Regions from separate parts of the Homo sapiens genome. Here region 1 is linked to region 2. Evidence: fine-mapped expression QTL. A gene starts in region 2. The other region holds a variant in brackets. All regions are shown on one strand. Distances are from middle to middle.

Evidence for each region. PIP is the estimated chance that this variant, and not a neighbour inherited with it, causes the effect.
Region 1: its variant is the best candidate, but not a certain one, in a credible set for the expression of DNAH17 in monocytes after Pam3CSK4 (Quach 2016, PIP 0.67).

The regions. Positions count from the first base shown.
Region 1 is chr17:78,533,255-78,541,254 of GRCh38, reverse strand. It overlaps DNAH17 (dynein axonemal heavy chain 17), which reads left to right. Exons shown (of 81, transcript NM_173628.4): 18 at 1,375-1,518; 19 at 3,774-3,956. Among named protein-coding and RNA genes, the nearest start is that of DNAH17, 40 kb to the left of the region's middle. RefSeq lists an enhancer at 7,688-8,000. The variant C/T (reference allele first, on the strand shown) is at 4,513.
Region 2 is chr17:78,572,658-78,583,393 of GRCh38, reverse strand. It overlaps DNAH17 (dynein axonemal heavy chain 17), which reads left to right and starts at 5,998. Exons shown (of 81, transcript NM_173628.4): 1 at 5,998-6,099; 2 at 8,312-8,681; 3 at 10,500-10,693. The coding sequence starts at 8,337. RefSeq lists an enhancer at 2,096-2,597.

The DNA.
Region 1 (8,000 bases), 41 kb after region 2:
CTGCTCACCCCCCCACCCACCCATCCGCTCACCCCCCCACCCACCCATCCGCTCACCCCCCCACCCCGCTCACCCACCCATCTGCTCATCCCCCCACCCCGCTCACCCCCCCACCCCGCTCACCCCCCCACCCCGCTCACCCCCCCACCCCGCTCACCCACCCATCCGCTCACCCACCCATCCGCTCACCCACCCACGCCACCCACCCATCCGCTCACCCACCCACGCCACCCACCCATCTGCTCACCCACCCATCCGCTCACCCACCCACGCCACCCACCCATCCACCCATCCACTCATCCACCGATCCACCCACCCACCCACCCACCCACCCATCCACCCACCCACCCACCCACCCACCCATCCATCCACCCATCCACCCACCCATCCACCCACCCATCCACCTACTTACACATCTACCCACCCCATTCATCTGTCCACTCATCCACCCACCCCACCCACCCATCCACCCACCCCACCCACCCATCCACTCACCCCACCCACCCACCCACTCACCCATCTACTCACACATCTGCCCACCCCATTCATCTCTCCACCCATCCACCCATCCATCTGTCCATCTACTCATACATCTACCCACCCCGTTCATCCATCCATGGACTCACACACCTACCCACTCTATTCATCTATTCATTCACCCACCCCACTTATCCAGCCACGTACCCATCCATCCACTCGGCCACCCACCCACCCATCCACCCATCCACTCACCCACCCACCCAGTCACCCACCCACCCATCCACCCACCCACTCACACATCCACATACCCACCCACCCACCCACCCATCCATCCATCCATCCATCCATCCACCCACTCACCCATCTACCAACCCCATCCATCCATCCAGCTATCCGTCCACCCCATTCATCTGTCCATCCACCCACCCCACCCACCCACCAGCCCCTGCTCTGTGCTAGGCCTACTGCTGAGTGCTGGGGGTACAGTGGTGGAGAGGATGGTCAACCTTCACCTTCATGAATTTGGGCATCAAAAGGGCATGCAGACCAAAGACAAAGACAAATAAAATAATTCTGAGTGGCCCTCTGAGCCATGGTAGGCATAAATAACAGTTTGCTAGAGGAAACCCAACTAGAGATGGAGGATTCCTTTGGGAGGAAGGGACATTTGAGCTGAAATCAAAAAGATTGGAAGCCAGACCCAGCAAGAAAGTGAGGGAGCAGCCGTGCAAAGCCTCGAGTAGGAAGGCGGCCAGCACCAGCAAGATGCTCAAAGCAGCCCCGTGTGTCCGGCGTGTGAACATGGACGGGCGGTCCAGAGAGGCACTAAACAGTGTGATCAAAGAGCAAGCACAGCCAGTGAAGTGAGGCCCAACTGTGCGCTTCTGTTTGCAGGAAAACGCAGAACTATTCAGGGCAGACACACTGAGCCTGCCCTGGAAGGATTATGTCATCTACATTGACGACATGGTCTTAGATGAATTTGACCAGTTCATTCGCAAATCTCTGAGTTTCCTAATGGACAACATGGTTATAGATGTAAGTTATCAACATAAGGTAATATATTTATGTATATGTATTCTTATCTGTTAGAATCTATAGTTTCTAGTTTCTTGATGAACAGGCTATCATTTTATAAATAGACTTATTAAAATATATCTTATGCAATCTACTTGACCTGGTTTTAAACCTGGAAGTCCTGCATTCCAGAATCCCCTCAGTCCCAGGCACTCAGGACCACTGGTCACTTTAAATCTGCCATAACATAAATTGGCTGCAGAAAACCTCAAGAGACCTAAGAGGCTGGTCCTGCCTCACTGCCAGGTGAAGGAAAGTGGACACCACTGCCCCCTACTCATGTGGATTGGGGGGAGGGTCTCCTGTCAGCAACAACAGCCACTCACCTACTTGATTATATACGGCTGAGTAGAAGGTAAACCAGTCAGCAAAGAGGTTGTGCTGGTTAATCCCATGGAGGCATGCTTTCCATGGCAATGGCCCCTTTCCTACCTGTATCTTCTTTTTATTTTATTTTTTTATTTTTTTGAGACAGAGTCCCGCTCTGTTGCCCAGGCTGGAGTGCAGTAGCATGATCTCAGCTCACTGCAAACTCCACCTCCTGGGTTCAAGCAGTTCTCTACCTCAGCCTCCCAAGTAGCTGGGATTATAGGTGCCCGCCACCACGCCTGGCTAATTTTTGTATTTTTAGTAGAGGCAAGGGTTCACCATCTTAGCCAGGCTGGTCTTGAATTCCTGACCTCATGATCGACCAACCTCGGCCTCCCAAAGTGCTGGGATTACAGGCGTGAACCACTGTGCCCAGCCCTGCATCTTTTTTGTTGAGATGGTTTCTAAATGATTTTGAGTACCGCCAGGAGGCCAAGATCAAAGGCTCCCCCAGGCTACCAACAACAAAGGAACGTGGCAGTGTCGTGCCCTTGTACCGACCAGGGAGGGTGGATGGTGTTTGAGTCTGGCATATGGGTCTCAGATGCCAGCTGGTAACCAGTCACAGACCCAAAATTCAGTTGACGAAAGTACTCGTCACTACAGACTGTCCCAGTGAAAGCGTCTCAACAAAAACCATAAAGAAGTCCCAGTAACAAAGGGTTCTCCTCAAAGAGTTCCAGGGAGTCCTCCTACTTTGTGAGTAGCCTGGGGGCAGGAGCCGACCTGAGTCTTTAGAGAAGTCTGGTCACACAATTGACCGTTTGTCCCAATTAGCACCTCACTCAGATACTGATACAGCCCCCTCCTGCTCATAGACAAATTGGGGGGCTCAAAAGCTCATAACCCACAGGTCCAATGGGGACTCATTCAGGGGGAGATCAGTGGCCACAGTGTGATCTCACAGCCTGGTGGATCCTGGCCCACATTTTGAGAATCGTTAGTTTGGCAGGAAGAGCACTTGGGTTCTCAATCCCATCACTGTAAACCAGAGCAGCACCTGCAGCCCTGCAGCCTCACAGGGGCCTCCAGAACTCTGTAAACGGGGACTTCCAAGGGAGAGGGACAGGCAGGCTTGGCCAGCCCCTGCAGTACCTGCTTTGTGTGTCAGTGATTCATTTAGCCCCTGTAGTAACCCAGAACAATGGAAACAATGTCTCCATTCTTTTTTTTTTTTTTTTTTTTTTTTTGGAGACAGAGTTTTGCTCTTGCCCAGGCTGGAGTGCAATGGCACAATCTCAGCTCATTGCAACCTCCGCCTCTTGGGTTCAAGCGATTTCCTGCCTCAGCCTCCCGAGTAGCTGGGGTTCCAGACACCCACCACCAGGCCCAGCTAATTATTTTGTATTTTTAGTAGAGACGGGGCTTCGCCATGTGGGCCAGGCTGGTCTCAAACTCCTGACCTCAGGTGATCCACCCGCCTTGGCCTCCCAAAGTGCTGGGATTACAGGCATGAGCCACTGCGCCTAGCCAACAATGTCTCCATTCTATAAAATATTTAGCCTCATTTTATATATTTGGGGAAACTGGGAGTTAAGTGACTCCCCAAGGCCTCAGAGCTGGCAAGTAGCAGGTGTGGGCTTTGAACCGAGGTCTGAGTTCTACCTGATCCTGCCCCTCCCCTTGCCCCAACCTGCCCCTGCCTGCTTTTGGCCTTGTGGCTGTACATTTGGCTCTGTAGCGATTGCTCAAGGAGCGGGGTGCGCTGAGACACGAGCTCTCAGAAGCTTCCCAGATAAGTGGAAGGCAGTGACACATTGATGGTACGGAGTGGATGATCAGGGCACTGAGAATCATCCGATGGAGGACAGAGGTGTTGACCACTGCCAACCCCACCCCTCTTTCAGGAGAGTATCGCTCCCCTGTTTGAGATCCGCATGGAGCTGGACGAGGATGGGCTGACCTTCAACCCGACCCTGGAGGTGGGCTCAGATCGCGGCTTCCTGGCACTGATCGAGGGCCTGGTCAACGACATCTACAACGTAGCCAGGCTCATCCCTCGGCTGGCCAAGGACAGGATGAACTACAAGGTCAGTCCTGGCCTCTTCTGGCCGTACACAGGGTCATCCATTGCTTTCCCCATTTGGTGTTGCCGCCCTAACTCGGCAAGGCTTCGCCGTTTACCTTTTCTTTTTTTCTTTTTTTTTTTTTGAGACGGAATCTCACTCTGTCGCCCAGGCTGGAGTGCAGTGGCGCGATCTTGGCTCACTGCAACCTCCGCCTCCTGGGTTCAAGCCATTCTCCTGCCTCAGCGTCCCGAGTAGCTGGGATTACAGGCACCCGCCACCACACCCGGCTAATTTTTTTATTTTTTTTTAGTAGAGACTGGGTTTAACCGTGTTAGCCAGGATGGTCTGGATCTCCTGAACTCATGATCCACCCGCCTCGGCCTCCCAAAGTGCTGGGATTATAGGCGTGAGCCACCGCGCCCGGCCCTGCTTACCTTTTAAATGACATCGTGTGACCTCTAGGATGACATGGCCACTTCTCTCCCCACTCCCACATCTGTCGTCCTTCCCAAAGCAGCTTCTTCTCAGTCAACCTGCCTGGGTTTCATTCCCTCATCATCCTTCCAACCCCCCGACA[C/T]GATGCCAAGAGGGTAACCTTTCCCAACTTCCTGACTGTTCACTCAGTCCTGTAATTTTTTTGAGACAAGGTCTCACTCTGTCACCCAGGCTGGAGTGCAGTGGTTCAATCTCGGCTGACTGCAGCCTCTGCCTCCCGGGCCCAATTGATCCTCCCGCCTCAGTCTCCCAAGTAGCTGGGATTACGAGCATGCATCACCAAGCCCAGCTTGGTGATGTATTTTTTTGTAGAGATGGGGTTTTGCCATGTTGTTGCCCAGAGTGGTCTTAAACTTCTTAATTTTTTTATTTTTTGAGACAGAGTCTTGCTCTGTTGCCCAGGCTGGAGTGCAGTAGCATAATCTCAGCTGACTGCAACCTCCGCCTCCTGGGTTCAAGCGATTCTCCTGCCTCAGCCTCCTGAGTAGCTGGGACTACAGGTGCATGCCACCATGCCTGGCTAATTTTTCTTTTTTTTTATATATTTTTAGTAGAGACGGGGTTTCACCATGTTGGCCAGGATGGTCTCAATCTCCCGACCTTGTGATCCACCCGCCTTGGCCTCCCAAAGTGCTGGGATTACAGGTGTGAGCCACCGTGCCCGGCCTCAGTCCTGTAATGTAAACACTGATTCTCCCAGTACTCAGGCAATTTGACAAATGTGCCTCCCACTGCCTTCTGAAATCATCTCGTCTAAACGCATCAAACAAGACACACGGAGAGCCTGGCCAGGCTCTGGGGTAGGAAGGACAACAAAAGTCATGGGAAATTCAGCTCCCCGCTTAAGGGAGGTTTGAGGTGGTGTGTTTGTCAAAGCACCTATTTGTATAGCAATAAAAAAAAATCTGAAAAGACTTAAGTGACCTAAATGTTTGTGGAAGAGGGGAGTGGCTTGACCAATTCTGGCCCAAACCCAGATTCTGTGAATTGTCACAATGAGCCAAGGATGGAAAGGTGTTGTGACAGGTTATTAGACATTTATCAAGTTACAGAACAATGTTTAGAATATGGTTTCATTTGCTTAAACAAGCAAAAATCTGGGTGAGTGCTTACCAGGAAGGGAGGAAGGAGGGGAGGGGAGAGGGATGTGGCTGCAGGCGTTTCCTCTCATGCATTTCTGCGTTGTTTGAATTGTAAAATAATGGACACGTATGATTTGTCATAACATATATTTACAGCGAGATGAGCTGTCCTGTCCAGGAGGGAGGGATGTGCGTGTGCTCGTGTGTGTACGCGTGTGCTTGGATGCATATGTGCCCGTGTGCGTATTTGCATGTGTGGTGGGGAGGCATGCTTGTACAGAGGTGACATGAGGACACGAGGGAACAGCTAATGACCTGAGAAGGTCAAGGACAGCTCCTGAGAGGAGTGGGCGTGTGAGCGGATTCTGGAAGGGTGGGAGGAGGTTTCCATGCTGAGAAGATGGCTGTGATTTTAGGCCCAAGTGCAAGCAGCAAGCTGTTCCAGAGTTGAGAATAGAATTTGCCCCAGTTATGCAGACGCTAGGTTAGCACATGTCCTCAGAATCAGTGTGTCCCGGGTGTGCCCCTCCCACTGTCCCCAAAGCAGGCTGCTCTTGGGCACCCACGGTTGCTGCAGACAGAGCTGCTCCACCCCTGGGCTCTGCCAGCACAAACACTCAGGCTGCCTTGCAGACACCCTGGGACGCTCAGGCAGAACATTCCAGAGCTGAAGGGCCTGTTGCCCAGGAGAAGGGTCCCTCGAAAGCCTGCTGGTCTAGCAGAGTCTTACCTGGTGCCAAGCTGTGGAAGACAATGAGAGAGTCAGGCATCTAGACTGCTGGGTCCCAGGGCCACTTCCCAGAGACCCAAGTACCCTAGCTTGGTGGCAGAGAGTACCCAAGGGATGCTTCCCATGGGTACCAGGGTGGCCAACCCAGAGGAGTTGGGTCAGGACAAGGAGGAGATAGAATGTGGGCCCCAGGCTGCCACAGGGATTTAGAGAGCTGAGCTGCCCACAGGGGACACCAGCAAGGGGCAGAGACCCCAGGCAGCAGGTCTCACCTGCCTCTGGTATGCCAGGCTGCCACCAGCCCAGCCCAACTGGAACTTGGATCCCACCTGGGGAGATCCAAAGGACTGCAGGGGACAATCTCAGCTGGAGCAGGTAGATGCCTGGAAGTTACAACACTGAAATCCAGAAGCACCTGCCTGTGCTCTGAACACTGCACTCCCAACCCTGAGCAGAAAGAGGGGCCATGAGGAGGGGTGGGAGCCAAATGTCAGGCACAGGCGAGCCCATGGCTGAATTCTGAAGCACACACCAAATGCTTTCCTGCAGCCACGAGGAGCTTCAGGTTTCTCTCCCCTGTGGCTTCTTTCCATCCACAACTTACATGCAGGGTGGCCCGGCCCAGCCCTAGGGCCAACCTTCCCCTTCCATCCCAGCCCCACTGACTTCACCTCCTCAATTACACCGTTTCCTCGTGCCACCCCTTACCAACGAGGTCCCCTGCACAGACAAGATCTCCATGCACATCTGGGTCCCGATGGGGCCTCTCTGCAGCTGTCATGTGGGCTCTGGGCTATAGGCTGTCTTCAGTTGTCTGGTACCTGACCCTGGGTGATTTAGGGCAGGGGAAATACTGGCTTGGTGTGAGAGTTGGGTAAAGGGGAGTGGTTGAGGGTCGGCTGGTTTGCATATGCATGCCCCCAGATGAGCCTTTTGCTATCTCAAAGAATTGCCTAGCCCTGGGAAAGGCCGGCTCTTCCTGGCCCATAAGGTTTTTTTATTTTATTTTTTTAAGATGTCAAAATTGGGCTGGGCGCATTGGCTCACGCCTGTAATCCCAACACTTTGGGAGGCTGAGGCAGGTGGATCACCTGAGGTCAGGAGTTTGAGACCAGCCTGACCAACACGGTGAAACCCCGCCTCTAATAAAAATGCAAAAAATTAGCCAGGCATGGTGGTGGGAGCCTGTAATCCCAGCTATTTGGGAGGCTGAGGCAGGAGAATCACTTGAACCTGGGAGGCAGAGGGTGTAGTGAGCTGAGATCGGGCCACTGCACTCCGGCCTGGGTGACAGACCGAAACTCTGTCTCAAAAAGAAATAAGATGTCAAAATTTCATAAGATGCAGACAATAAAAATGTGATTAATACACACACCGACCACCTTGGGATTCTCCAGTCCTGTATATAAGCCAACGAGTTCTCTCTTTGCTTAACCAGTTTGGGTTGGGTTTTCTGTCACTGGCAACTAAAAAGATCCGTATAGCACTGGCCTCTCGTGCTCTCTGCTCTAGCCACCGACAGTAGACTTCCTTTAGTTCCCCTAACACGCTGCCTCCTCCCACCACGGGGCCTTTGCACGTGCTTTGCTGTTGCCAGGAAAGCCGCTTCTCTTGCTCCTTGTCTACCCATCCATCAGCTCTCAGACCAATGGCCATTTCCTCGGGGCCATTCCCTGACCTGCTCCCCATTTCACCTGAAGCAAGGGGGAGGGTGGAGATGCTTTTTTCTGTGATTCTTTGATGAATGTCAGACCCCAT
Region 2 (10,736 bases):
CCACATCACAGCCAAAGACTACATTTCCCAGCCTCCTGTGCAGTGAGATGTGACCATGTGACCTGGCGTGACCAATATGGGGTGAGCCAACGAGCTATGAGCAGCCTCTGGGTTAAGGCATTCAGGTTACATCTCTTCCCTCCAGTTCAGTTCTTCTGGCTTCCCAGGGTTGGTGCAGTGGGCAGGGAGGAAGCCACATGGGAGTGGTGGTGTGGAGAGAAAGAATGGGAAAGTAGAAATATATGTTCCAGGCCATTCTCTTTTTGAGACAGCGTCTCACCCAGGCTGGAGTGCAATGGTGTGATCTCGGCTCACTGTAATCTCTGTTTCCCAGATTCAGGTGATTCTCCTGCCTCAGCCTCCCGAGTAGCTGGGACTACAGGTGCGTGCCACCATGCCCGGCTAATTTTTTGTATTTTTAGTAGAGACAGGGCTTCACCATATTGGCCAGGCTGGTCTCGAACTCCTGACCTTGTGATCCACTTGCCTTGGCCTCCCAAAGTGCTGGGATTACAAGTGTGAGCCACCCTGCCTGGCCAGGCCATTCTTTAGAGAAATGTGGCAGTGAAGAGGCGTAGAGATGGAGAGGGCGAAGAGCTTGAACAGGATTGCTTTTTCCAAGATGGTAGTGACTTGAGCTGTTTGAAAGATGATAGAAGAGGTTGGAGACAGATGAGGAAAGGATTGGACTGCTCATGCTGTATATCATATACGCGTATCAGTGCCCTCCAGGGAAGCAGAACCAATAGGCAAGATAGAGGGACAGCAGTTTCATGAGGATTGGCTCACGTGATTATGAAGGCTGAGAAGTCCCACTCTGCTGTCTGCAAACTGGAGAACCAGGAAAGCCCACAGTGTAGTTTAGTCCAAGTCTGAAGGCCTGGGAAGCAGGGGCGCTGATGGTGTCAACAGCAGCCCAAGGGCAAGAGAAGATGAGATGTCTCAGCCCAGACACAAAGGCAGGAGCAGATGGGTGAATTTCTCTTTCTGCTTTTGGTTCTATTCAAGACCTTGAAGAATTAGGGGATGCCTGCCCACTGGGGAGGGCAATCTACCAAGTTCACTATCAAATGCCAGGCTCATCCAGAAACCCCCTCACAGACACACCCAGAATTAATGCTTAATCTGGGCACCATGGCTGTTCCAGCTGATGGGTAAAATGAACTATGTGCTGGCACAGACTGGGAGGTTTAAAGAGCGGAGATTCATGTTCTCACAGTTCTTGAGGCTGGAAGTCGGAGATCAGGGACCAGCATGGTTGGGTTCTGGTGAGGACCCTCACCTGGGTTATAGACTCTGACTTCTTGCTGTGTCCTCGCAGGGTGGAGAGAGAAAGAGATCTCTCTTTTGTTGTTATTATTTTTTGAGATGGAGTCTGGCTCTGTGGCCCAAGCTGTAGTGCAATGGCATGATCTCAGCTCACTGCAACCTCTGCCTGCAGGGTTCAAGCGACTCTTCTGCCTCAGCCTCTCTAGTAGCTGGGATTACAGGCACCTGCCACCATGCCCAGCTATTTTTTTTTTTTTTTTTTGTATTTTTAGTAGAGACGAGGTTTTACCATGTTGGTCAGGCTGGTCTTGAACTCCTGACCTCAGGTAATCCACCCACCTGGGCCTCCCACACTGCTGGGATTACAGGCGTGAGCCACCATTCCCAGCTGCTCTTTCTCTTCTTAAAATCCCACTGAATTATAGCCCCTCTCTAATGACCTCATTTGACTTTACCTCCTAAGGACCCCATCTCAGATACAGCCATGTTGGGGGTTAAAGCTTCAGCATATGAATGCTACCCTATTTGGAAAAAGGGCCTTTGCAGATGTGATTAAGAATCTGGAGATGATGATGTAATCCTGGATTACGTGGGGAGAACCTAAATGCCCTCCCAGGGGTCCTTGTAAGAGAGAGACAAAGGGAGATTGCTCCCAACACACACAGAGCTGGCTGTGTGAGGACAGAGGCAATGATGGGAGGGATGCAGCCACAGGCCAGGAATGCCGAGGACTGCTTGATGGCGGCCACCAAAGGCTGGAAAAGGCCAAGAAGTCTCCCAGAGCTGCGGAGGGAGCACAGCTCTGCCCGACACCTTGATTCAGACCTCAGCCCCCGGGAGAGAGAACTTTTTGTTGTCTTAGCCGCCTAAGGTTGTGGTGCTTTGATAGCAGCCACAAGAAACTGCGACAGTATCTAAGCAGAACATGGAGGAGAACCACGTGGGTACTCAAGCCGGAGAGGCTGTGTTGCACACGACAGGAGAGCTGAGGAGCCCAGCGGGACTGGGAGGTGACCCAGAGATCAGCAGCAGGAAGCTGCTACCTCCCCAGGGGGAAGGAGGTGACATCCCAGGGTCGAGGGCAGGGCCACAGGCAGAAGCTGAAGAAGGATGGAGCTCCTGTGCCTTCCAGGAGGCTCATGAAGTGTAGAACCTGCCACCCGGTGATCGCTCAGAAAACGGTAGCCAGGACTCTTCTTAGGCCAATGTGGGCATGAGCTGGCCAGCTCTCCTTTGCAATAAGCACCATGTGTTTCTGGAACCAGGAATGCCCTTCTTGCCCCTAACGCCCCATGGCTCAGGGATACTCATCCTCAGAACTGTGGCCGAGGAAGCTGACGTCTCCAGAGGGGCCTGGTTACTAGCTCAAGTGGCAGACAGCTGGAATTTGTGGGGGCTTGCTGAGTACCCCTGTGTCTGGGAGCTCTGGGGTGATATGCAGAACTGAAGTGACGGTTTAGTGGCACTGATTTTGCTCCTGGATGTTGGTGTGGGACAGTGCCAACTTCTGTGGTGGACACACCCTAAGATTGTACAAAGTCTGTTCCGTTCATTGCCCTTCCCTGGTAGCTTCTGGAGAGCCCGAGGGTGGCCTTCCTATCCTCACATGGCAGGGATGCTGCCGGGCACCCTGCTGCCAATGTGGCTGCCCTCAGCCCACCGGGGACAGGACCCTGCCACCCCTCCCATGTCCCTCTGAGCCGGGACAGAGGTCTTCCTTCACCTCTACTTTTAGTTTATTATGAAGAATGCTGCTGCGAATATGTGTGTGTTTTGATTTCTCCCTGGTGCACCCCTAGGAGGGGGTAGCTAATTGGTAGCCCCATGTTTAACCTTTTGGGGAACTGTCACTTTTCCAAAGTGGCTGCAATGTTTATACCATATCAGCCGTGGATGAGGGTGCCAATTCCTTCACATCCTTGCCCGTGCCTGGTGTTTTGTTTTGTTTTTTTCTGTCTTCTCAATTTTATCCATTCTAGTGGGAATGAATTGGGGTTTTTTTGTGTGGGAAAATACACAGAGCATAACATTTACCATTTTAGCCATTTTAAGTGTACAGTTCCGTGGCACTGAGTACACTTACATCGTTGTAAAAACACCACCACCATCCATCTCTAGAACTTCTTCACTATCCCAAATTGAAACTCTGACCCTGTTACCAGAAAGGGGTCCAGATCCAGACCCCAAGAGAGGGTTCTTGGATCTCGTGCAAGAAGAAATTCAGGGTGAGTCCATAGAGTAAAGTGAAACAAGTTTATTAAGAAAGTAAAGGAATGAAAGAATGGCAACTCCATAGGCAGAGCAGCCTGAGGGCTGCTGGTTGCCCATTTTTATGGTTATTTCTTGAGGATATGCTAAACAAGGGGTGGATTATTCATGCCTCCCCTTTTTAGACCATCTAGGGTAACTTCCTGACATTGCCATGGCATTTGCAAACTGTTACGGTGCTGGTGGGAGTGTAGCAGTGAGGACCACCAGAGGTCATCTTGGTTTTGGTGGGCTTTGGCCAGCTTCTTTACCGCAACCTGTTTTATCAGCAAGCTCTTTATGACTTGTGCTGAACCCCCGTCTCACCCTGTGACTAAGAATGCCTTCACCTCCTGGGAATGCAGTAGGGCCTTATTTTACCCAGACCCCATTCAAAATGGAGTGGCTCTGGTTCAAATGCCTCTGACGGCCCCATTAAAAAATAAATTCCTATTCTCCCTCCCTAGCCCTTGGCAACCTCCATTCTACTTAATGAATTTGACTACTCTAGGGACCTCATTGAAGTTCATTTTACTTTGATTTGCATTTTCCTAATGGCTAATGATATCAAGCTGCTTTCCATGTGCATACTGGTCATTTGTGTATCTTTCTTGAAGAAATATCTATATCCTTTACTCCTTAAAATTAGGTTGTTTTATTGTATTACGACAAGTCCCTTGTCAGATATATGATTTGCAAATATTTTCTCCCATTCTATGGGTCATCTTTTCCCTTTTTTAGGGTGCCTTTTGAAGCATAAAAGTTTTTGGTTTTGATGAAGTTAAACTTATCTTTTTTCCTTTGCTCACTTATGCTTTTGGCATCATATGTAAGACATCATTGCCTCATCTGAGGTCAGATCAACTCCTGTGTGCTCTTCTAAGAGTTTTATAGTTTTAGCTCTTACATTTGGCTCTTGCATTCTGTTAATCTATGCTGAGTTAATTCGTGTAGATGGCGTGAGGTAAGGGCCCAGCTTCGTTTTTCCGCATGTGGGTATTCAGTTATTCCAATACCATTTGTTGAAAAGGTGATTCTTTTCCCATTGAGTTGTCTTGGCACCTTTGCTAACTCAATCGTCCATAAATGGATGCATTTATTTCTGGAACCTCAATTCTATTCTAGTGATCTCTGTCTATTGTTATGCTGGTAGCACTGTCTTGATAACTGTAGCTTTGTAGTGAGTTTTGAAATCAGGAAGTGTGTGTCTTCAGACTTTGTTCTTTTTCAAAGTTGTTTGGATGGTTTTTGTTCCCTCATACTTCCCTATAAAATCTAGGGTCATTTCTACAAAAAAGGCAGCTGAGAGTTTGATAAGGATTGTGTTGAATCTGCAGATCAACTTGAGGAGAACTGTCGTCATCTTAACAATCTTCTTTTTTTTTTTTTTTTGAGACGGAGTCTCACTCTGTCTCCCAGGCTGGAGGGCAATGGCGGGATCTCGGCTCACTGCAAGCTCCGCCTCCCAGGTACATGCCATTCTCCTGCCTCAGCCTCCTGAGTAGCTGGAACTACAGGCACCCACCACCACGCCCGGCTAATTTTTTTGTATTTTTAGTAGAGATGGGGTTTCACCGTGTTAGCCAGGATGGTCTCGATCTCCTGACCTCGTGATCCACCCGCCTTGGCCTCCCAAAGTGCTGGGATTACAGGCGTGAGCCATCACGCCTGGCCCGTCTTAACAATCTTCTAACCCATGAACACAGCATGTCCTTCCATTGATTTAGGTTGTCTTTATTTCCATGATGTTTTGCAGTTTTCAGTGTACAAGTCTTAACACTTCTTTTTAAAGTTTATTCCTAAGTATTTTGTTGTTTTTGACGCTATTGTAAACGAAATTATTTTGATGCTGTTGTAAATGGGAGTTGTTTTCTAAATTTCATGATCAGATTGTTCATTATGGGGACAATTGTTTTCTAAATTTCATCATCAGATTGTTCATAATATAATTACAGAGAAATATAATTAATTTTCAAATATCTTGTATACTGCAAACTTGCTGAATTCCTCTATTAGCTCTACAATTTTATGGATTTCTTGGGATTTTCTACATACAAGATCACCTTATTGTAAACAGAGATAATGTCTTCCTTTCCACTTTGGGAGGATTGCTTGAGGCCAGGAGTTTGAGACCAGCCTGGGCAACAGAGTGAGACCTCATCTCTACAAAAAGTACAAAAATTAGCCAGGTGTGGTGATGTGCGTCTGTTGTCCTAACTTCTCAGGAGGCTGAGGGGGGGGGATCACGTAAGCCCAGGAGTTTGAGGCTGCAGTGAGTTATGATTGTACCACTGCACTCCAGCCTGGGTAACAGAGCGCGACCCTGTCCCCCCTCCAACCTCCCCTCAAAATGATCATCTAAGAGCCTTTCCACTGTGGGGTGACGGTTGGTTCCTCATTTGCTGCGCTATCATTGGTTACTTGGGTCCCAAGGGGAAGGTTCTAGAAGCCCCAGGTACCGTGAGGAGACTCCCAGAAGTTATGTGGCAGTTGGAGCCCCTCGAGGGAAGGGAGCCATTTTCTTTCCTGGTTTGGGAAAGAGTTGCTCATCAGTTTGCGGGAGAAGCTGTTTGCCTTCAGCTGGTGAGCGGCCTTCAACCATGCTGGGGGAGTCGGAGGCCAAGGTGGAGGGAGCAGGGAGGCCTTCAGAGGATGGAGGTGGGACCTAGGCCCTGGCAGACAGCAGACCCTCCACTTACCCCAGAAGTGGCTCTGCTCGCCACCGGGAGCTGTTCATGGCTCTGGGACCCCGAGGCTGGCTGCCACGTACCAGCCTGACCCCTTCCAGGGCTCCAGACTCTTCCCTGCTCCTGGGAAGGCCTTGCCTCAGCCCCCTGGCTTCTCCTGGAAGCCCCTAGCCCCAGCTTCCTCCTGTGGAGTCCTGAAGGCCTGGGGCATGGGCCACCTCCCAGAGAAGCCGTCTCTGCCCCTCCGGAAGCATGGCCTGGGACAACCCTATTGTTAACTGGGACCTCCTGGCCTTCAGCCCAGGAAACGGCTGGGTGGGAGCCTGAGATGAGACCTCCCGATCGTGCAAGAAACTTGCGGGGTGTAGGGGCCCCTCAGCCCACACATGTTATGGCTTGGGAGGCAGCCCACCCCATGCCGTTCTTGGAAGAAAAGATGACTTTGTGAAAGCCCAAATCCACAAAATCAGTAAACCAGAGGATGTTTCCCTCCAGTCCAGTCGCCTGACCAGCTTGGCGAGACTTCCAATCAGGAACCTTCCAGGACTCGGGCTCCCCTGAGTTCCTGATCCCCCTAGGAAATGACGACGTGACGCGTCCCCGGGTCTCGGAGATCCTGGGTGGAGATTAATTCAGCAGCATGCTGAAAGCCCTGTGGGAACCTGGTGAACGAGTCATCTCCATAAATGCCACGCGGTGCTCCTCCTACTTGCCTGGTGGTGTCCCCTTTTTCTTTCACAGATGTGCCTGAATCGGGTGGCTTTGCTCGTGGACCGCCATGTTTCTGCCATTTGCTGGCCAAATATTCCCCAAGTCCTCTCTCAGAGATGTTTGGAGCCTTGAATAAATCTCAGACCATTTGAATAGCATCCAAATGCTATCCACTACTGCTTCCCATCATATAGTTGTTTTGCCGATATATAGTGGCCAGGGTGAAATAAACCTGTTCCGTGGTATTACGTGTCTTTTGGGGAACTGTAGGCTGTTACAAACTTAAAAGCAATAGCTTGGGTCAAACCAAAAGGCAGAATTTGTGAGTGCTTCCAACGTCATCTGTCCACCCTGATGCTTTTCAGCAGCTGCCAGGTCTGGAGCAGGCCAGCCCCAGCCCACGGACCCCCAGAGCAGCTGAATACCCCAGGGTTCCCCTTGAAATTCAGGAGCTGCATACCTCCCAGATTGTGATGAAAACACAGCATCAGGCGACCCTTTGCATTCAACCCTGCCCTTGCAGAACTCGCCTCCAAGGCCCCCACCTCAGGCCTCTTGCCAGAGCCTGTCTTTATTTGAAACTTTGGTATTTTGTTCATAAATTTGTTTGCATTCATTTTGATGTTTAAAAATATTGACATGCCTTTTCTCTTGATGACTGTTTGGGTGTGTCTTTAAATTCTGTAAGTACCTCACTTGCCTAAACTTTGGGACTTCAGGGTGTTCTTTAAGGGGATCCCTTCCCCCCAATTCTCTAGTTAACCCTACCCCCGAGCATCTGAGCAGCTTGTGAGGGGTCTGTCAGGAATTTGCAGCTCGATTCTTTTAGGGGTGCACGCTGGGGGCTGGAGGGAGAAAGGGTGCAGAGCAGAGTGAAAGTTAAGGTGCACCACGGCTGCGGCTAAGACTGAGCGCTGAGCCTCACGGCCTGCACGTGGGGTCTGCTTCCTTCTTGCGTTTCACACATACTCTGGGGCTGCGACGTCTTTTATTGCTTTCCCAGGACCTTTCAACCTGACCCCCCAGCCTCTTGTTCTGCCTTTTCCTACCCCATCCCCTTCACACTGTCTGGTTGCGGCCATTTCCTTTTCTCTCTTTCTCCAGCATTCATCTCTATCTTTCCCATCCTCTGAACTTTATGGTCACAGGATTGTAAGCACACACCACTTTTGGGCAGCCTCACTCCCGGGGCACCCCCCATGGCGGGGCCGGGGCAGGTGCCAGCACCTGCTAAAGCACCCCCACCCCAACCCAACCACAGCTAAAAACTGCACACTCTCGACCAACTGTTTTGTTCCTGCTCCGGTAGAAACAGAGATTTCCTGCGGTGCCAGGGATGGGTGGGAAATTGGGGAGCCCGGGAGACAGTTCGTACCTGTTTCTTGCACTCTTAACAGATACACAGTGTAAGGAAAGGCCAAGATGACAATGGCCCCGGACGTCAGACTAGAGTATCTGGAGGAAGTTGCCTCCATCGTCCTGAAGTTCAAGCCGGACAAGTGGAGCAAGCTGATAGGCGCCGAGGAGAACGTGGCCCTGTTCACAGAGTTCTTTGAAAAGCCCGACGTCCAGGTGCTGGTGCTGACGCTCAATGCAGCCGGCATGATCATACCCTGCCTGGGCTTCCCCCAGTCCCTCAAGTCCAAAGGGGTTTACTTCATCAAGACAAAGTCCGAGAACATCAACAAGGACAACTACAGGGCCCGGCTCCTTTACGGCGACATCAGCCCCACACCCGTGGACCAGCTGATCGCGGTGGTGGAGGAGGTGAGTGCGTCCAGGCTGCCATCCGGGGTGTCGAGCACGACCGACTTCTCGGGAGCGGCCTTGAGTCCTGCTGCTCAGCCTGGAGTCCCTGGGCCAGCAGCAGCTGCAGAGCCGGGGAGGGATTGGAAATGCAGGCGCTCGGGCCCCGTCCACCCTGACCTGCTGAGACAGACCTGCTTGCTTTTGGTTTTTAAATTTTTTTTTTTTTTTGAGACAGGGTCTCACTCTGCTTCCCAGGCTGGAGTGCAGTGGTGGGAGCACAGCTCACTGCAGCCTCAACCTCCTAAGCTCAACCAATCCTCCAGCCTCAGCCTCCTGAGTAGCTGGGACCACAGGCATGCACCACCACACCTGGCTAATTTTCGTATTTTTTGGTAAGAGATGAGGTCTCACCAAAAAATAGCCTGTTGCCCAGGCTGGTCTCAAGACTCCTGGGCTCAAGCGATCCTCCTGCCTCAACCTCCCAAACTGTTGGGATTATAGGCGTGAGCCATCATGCCCGGCCACAGACCTGCTGTCTAACAAGACCTCCAGGTGGTGCTCGTGCCCTTGAAGTCTGAGAAGCCCCGAGCATCCCCTTGTTCTCTCTGGACAGCATTGAGACTGCCATGCTGTGCCGGGTACGGTTGCTGCCCATGGCCTGGGAAGGTGGGGACTGAGTACTGGCAGATAGGTTTCTCCAATTTTGAGACTTTGACTTAAGAAAGGGGAAAAAATGGAGTGTCATTTTATGTGTCCCTCTGCTGTCCCCCTTGGCAGGTGCTGTGTAGGTGGGGGGGACACACTTTGGGGATTCGGACCTCCAGAATGGGGGTGCCTTATCCTTCCTGGTCATCACTCTTCTCATCTGCAGTACAGGGGCCTGTGTGCTTCGCTTGTACACCAGACATTTTCTCACAGTCCTGGAGGCTAGAGGTTGAAGTTGAAGGTGTCGGCGGGGTTGGTTTTCCCCAAGGCCTCTCTCCTTGACTTGCAGATGGACATCTTCTCCCTGGGTCCTCATGTGGTCGGCCTTCTGTGCATGTCTAATCTCCCCTCCTCGTAAGGACACCTGTCAGACTAGGGCCCACCCTAGTAATCTGATTTTAATTACTCACCTCTTTTTTTTTTTTTTTGACAGTATTTTTGCTCTGTTGTCCAGTCTGGAGGGCAATGGTGTGATCTCAGCTCACTGCAACCTCCACCTCCCAGGTTCAAATGATTCTCTTGCCTCAGCCTCCCAAATAGCTGGGATTATAGGCAGGTGCCACCATGCCTGGCTAATTTTTATATTTTCAGTAGAGACGAGGTTTCACCATGTTGGCCAGGCTGGTCTCAAACTCTTGACCTCAGGTGATGTACCTGCCTCGGCCTCCCTAAGTCCTAGGATTTACAGGTATGAGCTACCGCCCCCAGCCCTTACTCACCTCTTTAAAGACCCTATCTCCAAATAGTCACATTCTAAGGTGCTGGGAGTTAGGGCTTCAGCAGATGGATTTGGGGGACACAGTTTGACCCATCACAGTCCTCCTAGGCTTTTAGCAAGGAGTGTGTGCTATGGGTGCAAGAGCTTGGGGATGGCTTTGGTACCACCAGGACAGGGCAGCTGGTATAAACTCCATGACCGGCCACACCTCCTTCTGGAAGAAGGATCCAGTTTTCCCAGGGCTCCAGACACCAGGTCTTTGGAATCCCCCTGGGGACCTGGCTCTGTGCGGGACCCAGTTTTCCCAGGGCTCCAGACACCGGGTCTTTGGAACCCCCCGGGGACCTGGCTCTGTGCGGTTGCCGAGCTGGTGAAGGCACAGGGGGCGGAACCACAGAAGTGTTTCCTTTTAGGTCCTCTCTTCTCTGTTAAACCAAAGTGAGAACATGGCTGGATGGCCCCAGGTGGTCTCGGAAGACATCGTGAAGCAGGTCCACAGGCTGAAGAATGAAATGTTTGTGATGAGTGGCAAGATCAAAGGCAAAACCTTGCTGCCTATTCCGGAGCACCTGGGCAGCCTGGATGGCACGCTGGAGTCCATGGAGAGGTGTGTGGGCCCAGCTGCTTCCGGCTGCCGCTGGGTGGGGAAG